Homo sapiens: one gene and its partner. The protein of the gene in region 2 interacts with the protein of the main gene of each other region in a pairwise test. Each region holds a gene or a part of one and is shown on either strand. Other genes may lie near its edges.

What was found.
Region 1: the proteins of NEU4 (region 2) and PLSCR1 interact in a two-hybrid assay, tested with the Homo sapiens proteins (one large-scale study listed by BioGRID and IntAct).

Annotation. Positions count from the first base shown.
Region 1 is NC_000003.12:146,514,406-146,517,691, forward strand, and holds the end of PLSCR1 (phospholipid scramblase 1), read right to left. Parts: intron 2,763-3,286; coding exon 2,601-2,762; intron 1,697-2,600; coding exon 1,640-1,696; 3' UTR 775-1,639; downstream 1-774. UniProt on the Homo sapiens protein: Catalyzes calcium-induced ATP-independent rapid bidirectional and non-specific movement of phospholipids (lipid scrambling or lipid flip-flop) between the inner and outer leaflet of the plasma membrane resulting in collapse of the phospholipid asymmetry which leads to phosphatidylserine externalization on the cell surface.
Region 2 is NC_000002.12:241,812,135-241,815,316, reverse strand, and holds part of NEU4 (sialidase-4), read right to left. Parts: intron 1,985-3,182; exon of another isoform or gene 1,804-1,984; intron 839-1,803; coding exon of another isoform or gene 833-838; coding exon 632-832; intron 426-631; coding exon 170-425; intron 1-169. UniProt on the Homo sapiens protein: Exo-alpha-sialidase that catalyzes the hydrolytic cleavage of the terminal sialic acid (N-acetylneuraminic acid, Neu5Ac) of a glycan moiety in the catabolism of glycolipids, glycoproteins and oligosacharides.

The DNA of each region.
Region 1 (3,286 bases), on a different chromosome or scaffold from region 2:
CATGGCCCGCCCTGCCTGCAATCCTGTGCCTATAAAGACCCAAGACTCAGTCAGAGAGGAGTGGAGACTATGGCTGGACATTGGAGAGAAGCAGCTTGACTTCAGAGGGACAGCTTGACAGTGTAACTTCAGAGAAGAATCCAGCTGGACAGGGCCAGACTTCAGGGGAAGATCACCTACCCCACTGTCCCCTTTTCAGCTCCCTTTCTCACTGAGAGCCACTTTCATCAGCAATAAAATCCCCCTCATTTACCATCCTTCAGTTTGTTTTTGTGACCACATTTTTCCTGGACACCGGACAAGAGCCTGGGAGCCATGAGTGCCGATATAAAAGGCTCTCACATTCGCCATTTGCCCTTGCTGGTGGAGGGCAGCTGTCCCACATGACAAGGCAAAGGGCCCACTGAGCTGTTAACACTTAAGCCGTCCACAGACAGCAGAGCTAAAAGAGCACTGTTAACACATCTTCTGGGGCTTCAGGAATCGCAGGCAACCCCACCTGGATGCTACCACAGGGCCTGCACAGTTTGTTCCTGCCCATGCCAAAGCGGCCAGCCAGTTCCAGTGCTTGTACACTCCAGTTCCTGCCTTGTTTGCCTGTGCACTCCCTCCCAGGAGGAGTTGAGAATGGCAGGCTGAGTAAACAAGGCACCCCTGTCTCGAGTCCTGTGAAGGGGTCAGGGAAATATCCTGCTTCAAATGTACCATCATTTAACTGAATGAGTGCTCAAAATACCATCTGAACACATTTCGTTTAAAAACAAAAATCAAATATACAAAAAAATCAAGTTTTTATTTCAAATATTTGAATCTAATAGATCATTATTTAGGTTTATACTCTGTGAATATATATATGATATTGTATTTAATTAATATCTGAGTAATCTCAATTACCATTTTCTAGGAAGGATAGAGTGTAAGAGCTAAACATTTCATGTAGAAATATTAACTTTCAAAAGTTATAATACCAGAGTTTTAGAGTGAAGGAGTATTTAAAATGTGTCTTTCTTTGGGAGAGAATCATTTTGTTCTTTACTAACAATAATTTGAAAATTGGTAATTTAATATCTTGTGAATATGAAAATATTATGGTATAGATTAGCTTCTAGGAGAAGTTAAGTGTAGCATGATTTCTTGAAGATTAAAAAAACATTTAACTTTTTAAAGATAATATGCATATTGAATATTATTTGAACATAATAGTAAAGAAAATTATCTTTGAGCTTTTTTGAATATATGGCATTTGCAAAATAACATTAGCTCTTATGCATGAAATAAATTGTAACTAGATTTAATAGGACAAGATATAATTTATATAAAAATTAATAAGGCCTTAGTTAATATTTGGTAGTAAAATGGACAATGAATCAGAGATCATAATTCAAAGCAGTTTTTCAAAGGAAGTTTCATTAATAAATGCAAAAACTCATATGTCCTTTTTCTCAAATTGACAATGAGTATTAAAAAATGTACAAAAACCTTTATAAATCAGTTATACAGAAGATAAACTATAATTTGAAAAGCAAAAGTATACAACCAGAGCTACAGGCCTTACAGCTTAATTCATACAGGTATGAGTTTAGATAGTCTCAATCAATATACAGACTTCAGATTTCCTGAGGAGACTTTCACTAATCCACTACCACACTCCTGATTTTTGTTCCTGGCTGCCAGTGCTTTCAAAAAACATGAAGTCCTAGATAAAAACAAAAGTATACAAATGAATTTTCAACAACAAAACAGAGATCAATTATCAGATGCAGAAATACTAAGGGATCTAGTGAAACACAGTAACAAATCTGTTAAAAAAATTAAATGTAATAAGTAAATATACAAAAGCTCTATAATTATATAAGTTCTGCCTTTGGCTTTCCATTTTAATAATAAATTCTATAATTCTATTCATTTATTGATACCTGTATGAATTTAATTAATCTTCCAGTCATTTTCTCTAAATGTTACTTTTTCTCTATCCCCATAATTCTCATCTTTGGCTGCATACTGGAATCACCTGGAACACTATATGAACTTCGAAGTTTCTGATTTAGTTGAACTGAGGTATGGACTAGTCCTTGGAGTTTTTAAAGTCCCTAGGTGGTTCTAATGTGAAGGCAATTTCAGAATCACTGGTATATCCAATTATTTCCTGTAATTTGGTAGTTAGGTCTACACACTTGAGTGAATGTACACTCTTATTGTACTTCATACTCCTATATTAGATGGTTTAATTTAATTACTATGAGTCATGGTAAAGTTTCCTTGTTTCACTAAATTTTTTCCACATATGCCTACTTTCAACTTCTTCCTCAAAGCATCTAGGAGATGCCTGATTTAAGGGGAGACTAAAATCTCTCCTTAGTACATCTCCTTAGTCCCCCTCTTGCCATGTGAATATTCATAGACTCTTCAGGTAGAAACTAGTCACCTGTGACCCCAGAGTGTCAGGATCAAATAGAATTTCAGAGCTAGGATTAAATGGGAATCCTGATTTAAAATCTATAAATTTTAAAATGTCATTTTGAAATATACACTTTACTGAATCATTTCAGAATGAACCTAGAGAAAGCATCTATAATCAAGATTAATAAGAACAGACTTACAATGAGGAAACAGGCACCAATCATTACAGCTTTCATTTTAACATCAAGGTCTAAAGGGAACTGGATTCCAAAGTTATCAGCGTCTGTAAATGCCTCTCTCAAAATTCCAGTCCAGTGCTTGGAAATTTTGCCAACCACACACTGTTCATCAAGAGATTTAATCTAAATTGAAAAAAAAAAGTATTAAATACTTTTAGGAAACTTATAGCAAAAGTACTTTCAAATTTGAAGTAAGATGAAACAAATATGGTATTAAAATTATGCACCATATGTAACCCTCATTAGATAACTGGAGGCTCCTGTATCTATTTATAGATATATGAAAAAAACTGTTTCATTGTACGGAGAAATTATATTTCAGAAAGTTTTCCTGAAATATTTAACAATTTCTATTTTATATTAATATAGACATTAATAAATTATTTGAATTGACCCAAAAGAAAATTTAAGCAAAAAAGGATATAAATATGAAATGTTTCTTTGATGACATTTCTAGAAGCCATCAGGAAGTTAATGAACAAAACTCCTATTAGACTTCTGCTTTAGGAGAAGCACAGTTTACACAGACTGAAAGATTAAATATGATGAAAAGGCTTATTACTACCCACTGTGAGTTGCCAAACATGAAATGCTAAGCACCTAGAAAAGATTAGCAGTTTGGAGTAAAGGCAAATACCAATAAGTAA
Region 2 (3,182 bases):
GGGATTTGCCTGGGACGGGAGGCGCAGAACAGTCCTGGGGAAAGGGATGGTTGGTTCCCTTGTGGCTGGAGACAGGGGTGGGGCAGAATGGCAATTTCCCGCTGGAATCTCCCTTCCATGTGGACCGTGGCCAATCAAAGGGACCCAGACCGGCACCCTGCCCGCCTACCCTGCACGGCACCACCGATGGCCTCCTCGGTGAGGTCCCGGGCGCTGCCCCACGAGAGGCCGGCGTCACGGCTGGCCACACAGCAGAGGCGCGCGGCGTTCCTTCCCGTGGCGATCTGCACGGCCTCAGGCGTGTGGCCCAGCACCGCGATGAAGAAGAGGAAGACGGTGCCCGTGCCAGCATCGTGCACAGGGCAGGGGTTCATGGACCGGTGCTCCGCCAGGGCTGCTGTCCCCAGCACGTGCAGGGCACCCCACTGCCCAGAGGAGGAAGTTCCGCTGACCAGGACGTCCAGGGACCTGGGCACAGCCCCCCGCAGGGCACCCAGGATCGCTGAGCCTGGTTTGCTCATCTCTACCTCGGGCATCTGCCTGCCGCCGCCACCCCCGCCCCATCCCGGGGTGTGCAGCCCCAGCAGATCCGGCCACTACACCCACACAGAGCCCCCGGCCACTCACTCACCCGCACGGAGCCCCCGGCCAGCGTGCCCCTCCTCAGCACCAGGCGGTGGGCGTGGGAGTCGTCAGGGCTGAGCCGCTGCTCCACAAAGGCCAGCAGGGTGGGCCCGGGGGGCACGGGGAGCAGCGAGGGCACGCGGTAGGTCAGGCCCGTCCTCTCCCGCTCGAAGAGCACTGTCCGTGAAGGGGTACGAGGGACCCCCATGCTCTGCTGGTCAGTACAGGGCCACAGGTCAGCAAGACAGGCCCAGGGAGCCCCACACTCGCTCCCGGTCTGGACTGGGGAATGCGCTCAGGAGGTGCAGACAGCTCCTGCCCACACCTGGGCCTCTTCCTGTACCCACCTTGGGGTCAGCCCTGTTTCTGACTCCCTCACCCCAGATCTGGAGCAGCCCCTCCCCCACCCTCCCTCGCACCCACTCCACCCCAAATGTCTGTGGAATCAGCCCCTTCCCCTCTCAACACGGCTCTGGGAGCTGACCCTCGGCCAGGCTGGTTGGTGCCAGGGTGCAGGGGAGGCTGGCCAGAGAGCCCCCGGGACCCTGCCAGCCATGTGCCCAGGACACAGGGTCATCCCAGAATTCGCCCAGCAGGAGGTCATGTGGACAATGAGGACCCAAAACCTCGAGCAAGGAGGAGCTCAGTGTCCCCAGAATAGAGGCCACAGCACCGTGGAAGCCACAGCAGAGACACAAAGAGGTGAGCCCACAGGGACCTGTGGGAGCCACGGGGCTCTCTGGGGACAGGGGATCGGCTCCCACTTCCTGAACGTCATCGGGGGAGTCACGGGGCTCTCTGGGGACAGGGGATCGGCTCCCACTTCCTGAACGTCATCGGGGGAGTCACGGGGCTCTCTGGGGACAGGGGATCGGCTCCCACTTCCTGAACGTCATCGGGGGAGCCACAGCCAGGGATCCTGCAGGGGACAGGTGCTTGGTGATCAGACCCCTGCCTGCAGGCAGCTGGCCCCACAGTGCCCTCATTCCAGTGCCTGGTGCTTCCCACCTGCAGGGCCCTGACCTGAGAAGCGCCCACAGGAATCAGAAGCTCCAAAGCCGAGTGGGGCCCGGCGGCCATTCTGGGAGTTTGCTCCCAGGCAACACCCACCAGGGCAGGGCCCGGGTGAGGGGGCATTTGGGGCACGCATGGGGTCTGCTTGTTGCAGGCGGGACCTGCCTGGGGGGTCTCTCAGTCTGATCGCACAAAGGCAGACGGAGCCGAGCGTGAGCACGCACAGCCCGGCACAGGGAGGTGGCACAGCTGCAGACAGTGGGAACGCTGGTCCTCCACCATGCAGGAGCGGTCAGATCCACGGCCAGCCGCCCAGGCCGGGCACACGGGGCACCTGGATGCGGGGCTAAGGGAAGGAGGGAGGAGGGAGATGGCCGGATGCCGGACACCACGCCTGGCCAGGGCAGAACGCCTGCCTACGACGGGGACCCATGCACACCCACGGGTCAGGCGGGACCCACTGACAGAGACCCGGGTAAAGGCGCAACACTCGTGTAAAACCCAAGCAGGCCTTGCCCCGACACCTGAGGCCCAAACAGACAGCTCCACCTCCAGCCACCTCTGCCCTGGGCCACCGGTTCCTGAAAGGCTCTTGGCTAGGACAGCTGGCCGGCCCCTTCCTGCCGCTCCCCCACCACCAGTGCGCGGCTTCTGAGAGCAGCTTCCGTCCCCAAGAAGCCCCTGGCTCTGCTCTCAAAGGGCAATTGTGCCCAAGCGGGAAGCAGGTGCAGACGCCATGTGTCCCTCTGGGCTGAGCAGGCACAAGCAAGACATTCTCTCTGCACTTGGCTCCCTCCCCAAGGCCCGGACCACAGGAGCAGGTGTCAGCACCCCCTGCAGACATGAGGCCCAGGCCCACCCCTGGGGACAGAGAGGGAGAGGAGGAGACTCCAGAAACCAGCTGGTCACTCCCCTTGTTGCACAGAGGGGAAACTGAGGCCCACAGAGAGGACAAGGCTGACACACACTTGGCTTGGGGCTTCCTTGCCACGGCCAGGCCCTGGGTTCCACAGAGCCTCCGTGTCCTCCATGTGGCCAGGCCCTGGGTTCCACAGAGACTCTGTGTCCTCAGGAGGTCCCTCTGTCTTGGGGGACCAGCCGTGCTCAGTGTGGCCAGGCCCTGGGTTCCACAGAGCCTCCGTGTCCTCAGTGTGACCAGTTCCCTGGGTTCCACAGAGCCTCCGTGTCCTCGGCAGGCCCCTCTGTCTCGGAGGCCAGCCCCGCTCAGTGTAGCCAGTTCAGCACATTCCAGGGGTTTGGCTTGACTGGGACAGCCATGTCCTGGACATTAACCAGTGCCCCCCGCCCTCCCTGACAGGGCCCTCCTTGGGGGTGTGGAGTCACAGAAGGGGAAACCGAGGCCCAGGGGAGATGGGACCTCCAGGAGAACCTGGCCTTCTGGTCCGTGGACCCCTGGACCGGTTGTAGGGGTCACTCTGGCTCAGCAGGGGGCCATCACAGACCACCCCCCCCACCCCCGCCAACCCCTCACAGCCCATCCTGTGTGGGTGCCCCAAGAGCCTTGAGGTCAGACCAGGCCCTCC